3 linked regions of the Homo sapiens genome follow. The protein of the gene in region 1 purifies or fractionates together with the protein of each later gene. This does not show direct contact. Each region holds a gene or a part of one and is shown on either strand. Other genes may lie near its edges. The genes, in order: ITGA5, RAB35 and PCDH1.

What was found.
Region 2: the proteins of ITGA5 (region 1) and RAB35 purify together in Homo sapiens (affinity purification with mass spectrometry; one large-scale study listed by BioGRID and IntAct). This does not show direct contact.
Region 3: the proteins of ITGA5 (region 1) and PCDH1 purify together in Homo sapiens (affinity purification with mass spectrometry; one large-scale study listed by BioGRID and IntAct). This does not show direct contact.

What each region holds. Positions count from the first base shown.
Region 1 is NC_000012.12:54,412,736-54,416,380, forward strand, and holds part of ITGA5 (integrin alpha-5 precursor), read right to left. Parts: intron 1-3,645.
Region 2 is NC_000012.12:120,099,639-120,103,283, forward strand, and holds part of RAB35 (ras-related protein Rab-35), read right to left. Parts: intron 1-3,645. UniProt on the Homo sapiens protein: The small GTPases Rab are key regulators of intracellular membrane trafficking, from the formation of transport vesicles to their fusion with membranes.
Region 3 is NC_000005.10:141,854,379-141,858,023, forward strand, and holds part of PCDH1 (protocadherin-1 isoform 2 precursor), read right to left. Parts: intron 3,094-3,645; coding exon 2,874-3,093; intron 1,885-2,873; coding exon of another isoform or gene 1,859-1,884; exon of another isoform or gene 1,846-1,858; intron 59-1,845; coding exon 1-58. UniProt on the Homo sapiens protein: May be involved in cell-cell interaction processes and in cell adhesion.

The sequences.
Region 1 (3,645 bases):
GTGTAATGGGGTGGTCATAGCTAAGGGCCTGGGCAGTCCTCCTGCCGTCAGCTCTGCCTCATTCATCCCTAGGTCTCTTGCCTCCAAGACCTCCACACCGCTCTTGGCTCTCTTGGTTTCCCCTAAGGGTCTCCTGCCAGGACTTGTATCTGGCAGCCTGGGCAACTCGACCCAGCCTCTGGACCAGTGCTCCTGCCAGCCTTGGCCTCTGCTCTGCTCTGTGTCTGCCTCTGGCACTGCTTCTCAATCCCTCTGTCCCTCTGCCCCTATGACTGCTTGCTCTCTTGGTTTTGGTTTTTGAATCCTATCTCTCTATCTCAGATTTTACATTTCTCCATCTCTATTGGTTTCTGTTCACTTTCAGCTTTCAACCCGTCCAATACCTACCCTTTCCCTGATATTTGAATACCTTCCTCAGCTTTCTCACTAGGCAAGAAGGCCCAAAGTGAAGGATTATGGTAGAGGTCACAAGAGCTGGGGGTATTTTCCAAGAAGACCAGGTATACTGAGGCGGGGAGGAGTGGCCCAGGAGGTATAGGGGATGGAAGCAGCAGAGAGGACAGGTCCGAGGGGACGGAAGAGGAGAGTGAGGAGGGGTCTGTGAGGGCCAGTGGTGAGAATGGAGGGGAGAGAAGGCAGGGTCCAGAGGAATAGGAGATGGGTAGGCTGAAGAGGGAGAGCTCCTGAAGTTAGGAGGGGTGGGGAGGGGAGGTGCCAGTCTCCGTTACTCTGGGGACAGGAAATGTTTACTGCCTGTGGCTTCCTGTCTGTTTCCAACCTCTCACTTCTCCGTTTGTCTCCCACACCCCCACCTCCGTGCCAGGCCCCACCCTTCTCACTTAGGCATGACATCCACTTGTGGGGTCTGGCTGCACCGCCCTAGGGCTGGGTGATGTGAGAGAAGGAGACCCCTCTCTCAGCAGGGGCAGCCCCCAGAGAACTTGGTTGCTGCCTTCAGGCTCTAGAAAGCAGAAAGGGCCACCAACCTGAACTAGACCAGAACAGCAGAGGTACAGGAAGCAGTGAAAGGAGCACTGGACCAGGAGCCAAGAGTTCTGGTTCAGGCACTAACTGTGGACTTGGGCAATACCCTCTCCCTCTTCCTCTGGGTGAAGAAGAGGTTCTCTCAAAGTTTCCTGGAGCACAGGGCTAAGGCCAAGGGACCCTATTCCTGCTGCCAATTTCTCCAACACCCACTGCTCTTGGAGAGGAGCTGAGCCTGACACTCCTGGGGTGGCCTGAGGAAGTAGCCTGGAGTTTAGCAGGGTTGCAAGACAGAGAGTTTACAAAGCTTGTAAAGCCCACAAGCCAGGGGCATATCCATTCCGGCTGTGCGATGGTTCAGGATACCTGGCATGCAGGCAAGGGACACAGACCTAGGCCTCCTTTCCTCCCGGCACACTACCCATGGCTTATTCCTGGACAGGCAGTGGCCCTTCCATCCCAGCAACCTAAAGTCAATCCAATAAATAGTGCCTCCCCTGCCAACACGCCAAGTGAGGTGACTGGTGCCATGGATGGCATGCAAGCTAGTTTGTCCTTATTTTCCCACATCTTTTTCCTGCTTCCTAAATCCTGCAGCAGTTGGGCACTTTTAGGGGTCTAAGAAGGTAACAATGGAGGGTCCGTGTGCTATTTTCAATATTTCAGAAAGCCTAACGGAAATCATGCATTTACCAGATAAGGTGGCCTAGGCTAATTAAAACCTCAAGTGTATTTGCTTTTGGCTGGAATTATATCAACTTATGTGGGAACCTGGTTATCTCATGCTGGTCAGAAACTCTGATTGGCAGCTATAGATGTTTTTGGTTAATAAAAAATGAGAAAAGCGCCAGGTGCGGTGGCTCACGCCTGTAATCCCAGCACTTTGGGAGGCCGAGACGGGCAGATCACGAGGTCAGGAGATCGAGACCATCCTGGCTAACATGGTGAAACTCCGTCTCTACTAAAAATACAAAAAAATTATCCGGGCGTGGTGGCGGGCGCTTGTAGTCCCACCTACTAGGGAGGCTGAGGCAGGAGAATGGCATGAACCTGGGAGGCGGAGCTTGCAGGGAGCCGAGATCACGCCACTACACTCCAGTCCAGAGACAGAGCGAGACTCCTTCTCAACAACAACAACAACAACAACGGCCAGGCGTGGTGGCTCACGCTTGTAATCCCAGCACTTTGGGAGGCTGAGACAGGCAGATCACCTGAGGTCGGGAGTTTGAGACCAGCTTGACCAACATGGCGAAACCCCGTCTCTACTAAAAATACAAAATTAGCTGGGCGTGGTGGCACATGCCTGTAATTCCAGCTACTCAGGAGGCTGAGGCAGGAGAATCGCTTGAACCAGGGAGGTGGGGGTTGCGGTGAGCCGAGATTGCGCCATTGCATCCCAGACTGGGCAACAAGAGCGAAACTCCGTCTCAAAAAAATAAAAAATAAAAATAAAAAGAATGAGAAAAGGAATTCATTATTTCTTACTAAATGCAGGTTGGCAGGTACACTTTTCTGAAATAGAGTCTGAGAGAAGAAATAACTGCCAGAATTTATTCTGAAGCCTCAGAAATGGAAGGGTTGGTCCTTGGAGACACAGACTACCACAGCTAGAAGGCACTGTAGAGAGCATCCACTGGTTTTAAGACTTCACTGTAGGTGCCTGAGGCCACATGGCATAAAGGCAGACTGGCCTCGTTCTGACACTCCCTAAGAAAAAGTTCAAAGCTGCTCACCTCGTCCCATGTTCTCATTCTGCAGATGGGAAAACTATCTCAGAGGAGTTAAGTAATGGGCTTAGGTCACTCATAATCCCTCCCAGAATATGAAGCAGAAATCAGGAATCCTGATTTCTACGACAGCATTCTAGTCTACCCCATTGCCAACTTATTCCCTCCTCTCATATCTGCTATCTCCCCAGCTTTTGATTAACCAAGTCCCAGTTCAATACTGGGTTACTGTTTGACTCTGTTGGCCTGACAAGGTCAGGGGTGGAGAGCAGCAAGTGGACCAGCGCCCAGCTCCTACAGGTCCTACAGCAGCATGGGCCAGGCCAGAGGAGGACACCTGGTTTGGGGTCCCCTAGTGCATTCACAAGGGATATGTATGATTGGCTGGGGAAGAACAGCTGTCTCCACTTGTGGCAGTTGCAGAAGGGAACAAGGAGCTGAGCTGAGACTGGCCTGCCTCTCAAGCTTTCAAGTGTCCTGGGCCAAGTCACTGCCTCTCTTCAAGCTTTGGATTCTCTGGCATAAAATGATGGATTTCCCTTGAATGTTTCCTAAACTAACTTCTGGTTCAAAATTTCTATGACTCCTGAAGCCTCAGTTGTTTTTATTTTTTGTTTGTTTGTTGTTGTTTTTTTGAGATGGAGTCTCACTCTGTCGCCCAGTCTGGGGTCGCTCAGTACAGATGTGATCTCAGCTCACTGCAATCTCTGCCTCCCAGGTTCAAGGGATTCTCCTGCCTCAGTTTCCCGAGTAGCTGGGATTACAGGTGCGTGCCAGCACGCTCGGCTAATTTTTTTATTTTTAGTAGAGATGGGGTTTCACCATGTTGGCCAGGCTGGTCTCGAACTCCTGACCTCAGGTGATCCACCCACCTCCGCCTCCCAAAGTGCTGGCATTACAGGCGTGAGCCACTGCACCTGGCCAGCCTCAGTTT
Region 2 (3,645 bases), about 66 Mb from region 1:
GTAGGCACCTCCCTTCCTGCTACTCTTGGCTCATCTGTGCAGGTGGCAGGAAAAGCATGGAAGCCACACAAGCATCCAGGGATGGCTGGGGAGAGGGCGCCCAGCAAAGCCATCACCCCAAACATGCAGAGCCCAGGGCCAGCCAGGAAGGCCAGAAGGAAGGGGAGGCCCAACTCTCCTCTCCAGACCCCATGTCCCCATTCATCCCAGTGGCACAGGACGACATCAATCCCCGGAGGAGGAGGGGGACCACAGCCTCCGCTTCCCCGAGAGCTGTCGAAGAGCCGGAGGCCAGGCGGCAGCCCCGCCCCACACTGTGCAATCAGCCAGAGCTGTCCCTCTGTCCCCTCTCCCCAAAGCCGCAGGGACCTCCACCCCAGGGCTCCTCAGGACAGCACACAGACAAACCATGAGTGGACAGGCCGCTTCCTCCCGGCTTTCTGGCTGCCACCTGCCCCAGCCCTAATTACCTCCACCCCCATGAGGTTCATGGGGACAGCCCAAGCCCCAGTTCAGGAACAGCCCAAGTCAGCGCAGGCTGAGCAAGAATGGGGCAGCCAGGCTGACTTGTGGCTGCAGCTCCATTCCTGTCCACCTGCCCATCAGCTCTCTGGCCAATGCTTCACATCTGAGGCCCGATCTAAGGACAAAGACCAACCCTGGCTCCATCTCTGAAAGGCTGGCCCTTGGGAAGGTGCCTGCATTCACCCTGCCACACCTTGCAGCTTCAACAGTTATAGCACACAGGTGGCTAGTCCTTAACTGGGGTGGTCATGAGGAAGAAAGGAGCTAAGCATTACCCCAAGGCGGGGGAGCAGTAAACAGTCAGTATGCGTTCTTCAGCATCATCAATGTGCCTTCAAGGACAATCTGTGGTCCCAGACAGAGGTGGTGGAAGGAAACCAACAGGCAGCTTAGGGGCAGCCCTGAGCATCTTCCCTGATGCTGCAGAGCCAGAGCTCCTGCCCAGCCCTGGGACAAAGCCCAACCTGCCCCTGCCACCGCCCCTGCCCCATCCTTGCTCCATCCTCAACACGACCGCTGGGATCTCTTCCCAGGGCTTCATTCTGCCCACAGCTTTGCTTCCAGGGCAGCGTCGCTCCTTGGCTTCGGGGTAGCTGTGACGATCAAGCTCTCTTGGCACTGGGCCCAAGAACTAGCTCTGGCCTTGGCAGCTGCTGCTGAGAGCGCCGGGTCAGCACATGGCATGGTGTGTCAGACGCCTTCCAGAGCGAGGGCGCGCCGGAGCCACAGGAACAGGCGACTGTCCCCTGCCAGCAGAGGAAGCCCAAGGAGCGGATGGCTCTGCAGACTCTCCTTTGCTGAAGATGATCAGAGATGCCAAGAAACGCCTGCAGCCATGGCCCCGGCGCACAGCCCCCGCGGCTCCCTGGGCGCCTCTGCCTCATCCGGGGCCCAGGAAAGGGGCTTTATCTGAGAGCAGAGAATTTGTCTGGGGATGAAGTCAGGGGCTCAGAGCTCTGGCTAGGAGGAACCGGAGCACCGACGTTTCCCATGGCCACCAGGAATCACCTTCACTCACAGGGACTCTGCTCTAGGCCAGGCACAGAGCTGGGGGCTTGGTATCCATTACCTTATTAATGTCTGCAGCCACCTGATCCAGCAGACCTCAGGATGGCCATGTGACCAGCAAGGACGTGAGGCTGAGTGCAGCGGCCAGCTGGAAGTCCTGGCGCCCAGGGCTGACTCCCAGGCCCAACGCCAGGGCCTTGCCTTCCTTGTCACTTCTCCCCTCACCTCCATCCCACCCGCACCTCTCAGGGCCGGCAAACCTCAGCTTCTGAGAGCAAGAACCCGAGAAGGGGTGACCACAAGGCTTTTTCTCGCCAGGCTAACAGGATGCAGTTTCAGTTTCTCTCTGAACGCCCTGCATCGGAAAAAAGTCACGCTACTGCATCCTGACTGCCCTATTCCTGAAAACTCCTCACCTCCCCAAAACTCCTTCCTTCTTTGCCAGTGACCATCAAAGGGCGTCGAGACTTCCAGTGGCCCCTCAGGGCGCCCTGCTGGGCCTCCTGCCTCATGAGGGCCAGAGCGGGACTCTAAGATGGAGCCACCTGTCTGCTTCCCCAGACACGTGGGACGGCAGCAGGGGCCCAGCCGCTGCCCACAGGCCGCCCCTTCCCAAGCCCCTGGGGAAAAACCCATGTTGCTCCCAGGAAGCTGAGTGACTCCTCCCCGCCTCCCCACGGAATGGAGGAACCAGTTCACCTTCTTCCCGCTCTGCCCAGCCCAGAAAGCAGCTGACTGCATGATGGCAGGGAGGGGCTGTGGCTCCTCCTGCTGAAAGAGCCTCGGACCCCCCAGGCCCCACTGCCCTGCCCAGGAGTTCATTCCTCATGGCCACGGGCCTCTGAACCTCTGCCACCCTGAACCTCCGCCTGGTTTTAAGGCACAGGACGGGGCAGGAAGGCAGGGGCGCCACCTGCCCAGTCGATGCAGGGCCTCGGCAGACTCAGGGCCAACCCTGAGTGCCCCCAACCTCTGCCCCACTGAGTTAGGAGGCTTCATCCTCCCTGGGCCTGTTTTCCTGTCCATAAAATGGAGATAGTCACAGGTCTCTCTACCGGGATTAACCAAAATAAAGCAGCTGAAATCCTAGCGACAGGACCAACCCAGAGCAAGGATTCATGAGGTCAGCGCCCAGACCAGCCAACGGCATGAGGGCTTGCCTCGCCTGGGCCTGCAGCCCCAGGCTGCCCAAAGCACTGATGCCAGCCCTGCCCCAGTGTCCTCCGCAGATTCTCACTGGCAGCTGCCAAGACATGCAGGCCACAGAGCCCTCGCTCACAGGGCTCATCAACGGTCACCACACAGCACCACACCAGGGCGACCCCGGGACTGGGAGCTCCCAGGGATTCCGGGCATCACGGGCCACAGCACAAATGTGCTCAGCATAGGGTGAACCCAGTGACAAGCCCTCCGCCTTGGCTCCAGCCCCAGGAGCTGCTCGCCCAGCACACCTGTCCCTCTCCAGCAGCCCTGCTCTCCCCCATACTCCCAGCCATCCATGGGGGCGCTGCACCCCACACTTCCCACCCTCGGGAGATGCCGAGGGGCCCGGGGGCAGGGGCAGCCAGCCTGGGGAGTGCCGGGCTTTCATGCTGTGGGAAGGAAGGGGGCCGCTGGCTGGGACTTCCTCATTCGCCTTCCTGAGGTCACTTCCAGAGGAGCTGCTCGAGAGAGCCAAGGAGGTGCCCGTGGAGCCAGACAGCCGCCCCTCACTCTGCACAGGCCACTGTGTGGAGCACAGGCTTGGCCGCTGGGAGGGACCCCTCCAGGGCGCCCTCTGTCAAATGGGATGACAGCAGCACCAAGCACACAGAGCTGCCAGACACCACACCCCGGCACGCACGTTGACGCCTGCAGCAGAGCACCTGGCACCCTCCACATGGAAGCCAATCCCAGAGGCAGGCCCTCCAGGAAACGAGCGCAGAGAGCTTCGGCAACTTGCCTAAGGACACACAGCCCAACAGCTCCAAATCGGCCCCTTCAGACCCTGCTCTTTCCTAAAACCTGCTCCACTAACAACCCAATAACCAGGAGCCGCTCCGAAGGACACTGCCCATCTGCGCAGGAGCCCAGCTTCCCCCCGGCCTGCAGCTCAGCCACAAAGGTGGGCAA
Region 3 (3,645 bases), on another chromosome or scaffold:
TCACTGCACTCCCGGGTACATGTGCCTGTCATGGCGACATCAGGCAAAGGGCGAAGGTCTGTAGGAGGGAGCGGGGAAGGACAATTGTCAGACATACAGCCTCTGCAAAGCTCTGCTTCATGGCCTCCCACTGGCATCTACACCCCACCTCAGGACAGGAGTATGCGCCCCTTCCTGACCGCTGAACTCACAGGCACACACACCCTCAAAGAGACACATGCCCTCCCACCATCGACCTACTGGCCTACTGTACACACGCACACGCACACACACATAATCTATCTTTTTTCTTTTTCTTTTTCTTTGTTTTGAGATGGAGTCTTGCTCTTGTCACCCAGGCTGGAGTGCAATGGCGCAATCTCGGCTTACTGCAACCTCCACCTCCCGGGTTCAAGCAATTCTTTTGCCTCAGCCTCCCGAGTAGCTGGGATTACAGGCGCCCACCACCATATCTGGTTAATTTTTGGATTTTTAGTAGAGATGGGGTTTCACCAGGTTGACCAGGCTGGTCTTGAACTCCTGACCTCAGGTGATCCACCCACCTTGACCTCCCAAAGTGTTGGGATTACAAGCATGAGCCACCGCACCCAGCCTTATCCTTTTTTTTTTCAAGACAGGGTCTCACTCCTGTCACCCAGGCTGGAGTGCAGTGGTGTGATCTTGGCTCACTGCAGCCTCAATTTCCCAGGCTCAGGCAATCCTCCCACCTCAGACTCCCAAATATCTGTGACTATAGGCATGCACTACCATGCCTGGCTAATTTTTTATATTTTTTTGTAGAGATGGGGTTTAAGCCATGTTGCCCAGGCTGGTCTTGAACTCCTGAGTTCAAGCAATCCGCCTGCCTCAGCCTCCCAGAGTGTTGGAATTACAGGCATGAGCCACCAAGCCCTAAATAGACACATTCCTTCCAGCGTCACCTACCCCCCAGTGCTCTTCTTACACACCCACCAAATCTGCCCTCAGACAGGTGCACAAACACACACTCATCTACACACTGCCTCATCTATCTCCAGACAGACTTAAATGTGCAAATCTATCCTCAGGTGGGGTTGAGGAAACCTCCATCCTCATTGAATTGATTGACACAATCAACTCTCTCTCTCTCTCCCTCTCACACACACAGATAGGCATGGATACACAAATCTACTACAGTGGGCACCTCTATCCTCAGATGAAATTGGGTACATTGCTTCCTTCAGAACCCCCTCAAGCTTCACATGCTCCCGGTGGTCCTGAACCCACCCTCCTCCTGCAAGACCTTGCTTTAAAGCCAGGGGGAAGGGACGAGCTTCTGTGTGGGGTATTCACATAGAGGCACACACTCACATCCACAAGCACGCTCATGCAGCCCCTCCCCACCTCACTCTGGCCCCTAAACCAGCCACCACCCCTGGCCTTGCCCCAGCTCCCTGCCCAGAACACCCACGGGAACAGGAGTTGGCTGCCTGACATCAGCAGTAGCCGGTGTAGTTGCTGGGCAGCGGGGGTCTCCATGGGAACGGCTGGGCCATGAGTACTTCCTGTCACAGCTGTCCCTGTCCTGCCCTTGCTCAGGGACAGCACCAGGCAGTGACCCCCCCCCACCCCCAAGGGACATGGCTAAGCAACACTGCCTGGGACAGGGGCTCCCCTGGCACCACCCACTATGGCTTGGCCTCCTGCCAGTGCCAGGTGAGGAGGGGACAGCTCTGTTGTTAACCCTCAAAGTGCCAAGGCTCTACAGCTCAGAGCAGAGTTGGGGGACGCAACATGGCTCAGAGCAGAGCATGGGCACTGGGTGGGTGAGGCTGGGTGCTGGGCAGAGTCCCACAGACCCCAGACCCCAGAGCAGTTCCCACATACCTGGCACTCTGCCTCAGGGCCTGCTCCGGCCAGCCGGCTCTGCGCGGGCACAAAAAGGATGAGACGGGCATGAGATCGCGCATGGAGGGGCGGGGTGGGGGTGGAGGGCACTCTGAGACCTAGGGCCTGGGAGGTTAGACAAGGGCCCGGGAGGTTAGACAAGGGCCCTGTGCCTGAGGCAGGGGAGTGAAACCTCCCATCTTTTGTGGAGCGAGGAGGCTTTGAGTTGAGGGAGTGGGTGGGACCCGAGGACAACTCCAACTTAGAGAGTCTTTCCATCTCAGGGGTTAGCTCGTTCACTCTCCCCCTCCACAGGCTGCCATGGACGACTTCACACATGCACACGCACTGCACACACACTGACGGCACACCTCACCATCCATTCCCATGCCGACCTCTGCGCTGGCTCACACCTCCTTTTTGCCATCACCCTCCAAATCCCTCCCAGACAGGCCTTTCTCTTCACCAGACCTCCTACCGCGCTCTTCCTCAAAGAGGTGCCAAACCTTCTCCCACTCCTCACCCCAGCATATCGTCACTCCATTCTCTGAGCCCCCTGTAGCATCCAGGGCCCAATCTCTATTCTCAAGGCCTTCCCAACCTTAGAGGACCACCACCCACCTTCTCAAGGTTTCCTCACCATTACGTGAGCTTTCTGGCCACCACACTCAGGGTCCCTGTTCCCAGGTGGCCGTGTAAACATGGTGCCGAATGCAACAGCTTTGGAGTCAGAGAAACCTGGGTTTGAATCCCTCCCAGGTCTGTCACGTTCTAGATGTATGACTTTGGGCAAGTGACTTAACCTCTCTAAGCCTCAGTTTCCTCCACTGTAAAGTGGGTGCCATAAAGTTCTCAAATCACAGAGTGGTTCTGGGGATTAAATGCGTGTATACCTGAAAGCCCTCAGCACGGTGATGATGACTGAGCACATAATAACTCAATACATAGATGATTTGTTTAAGGCCTTGTCACCATTCCCAGGCTTCCACTCATTCCTGGGGTGCCCTGACCATGGTGCTGCGCCTCACCATTCTCGGGGTGCTCCATCTCTCCTATGCTGCCATCAGGGGTGGTGCGCTCATAGTGATCCTCAGGCAGGGCCAGGGGACCGAGTCGAGGCCCTGAGGATGACTTGCTGGACGGCGTCTCAGACTCCTCCAGGCCACTGTCATAGTAACTGTGCTGGGATGGGTCCTGCAGCTCCTGGGCCTGGCTGGTGGCCGAGAAGGTGACGCGGCGGTGAGGTAACTGCAGGGAGACAGATTGTCACTACTGACCAGCCAGCTTGCCCACAGGGCCCACCACCATACCAGGCCCTAGTACAAGCCAAGCACCATCCTACTCAGGCTTCAACAGCAACCAAGAAGAGACCCAGGCCCCAGCACAGCACATTCCTCCCGAAAGCACAGGCCCCAGTGAAAGACAGCTCCTGAGTTCTAGGACCGCTCCTAGTACAGCCAAGTCCACATACTGGAAGTCCCAATACAGCGCAGGCCCCAGTGTTATTATAGCCCCTATGCTACCCCAATAACCCTCATCCAGTGCAACCGCTTGTTATAGCACAACCCTTCTAGTTCTAACCCAGCTTCCCAATATTGGCACAGCCTCCCTTTAATCCCAGAATGACCTGTAATACGGTGTAGAGCCCAATACCAGAGTAACATAATACCACCCGACTCCCCTAATTCCAGCTCAGCCTCTAAACACCAGCATAGCCTGCAGTTTCTAGAACAGCTTCCTAAAAGAAGCAGACTCCTAACTCCCAAACAGCTCACCAATACCACAACAGTTAGTTCCCTC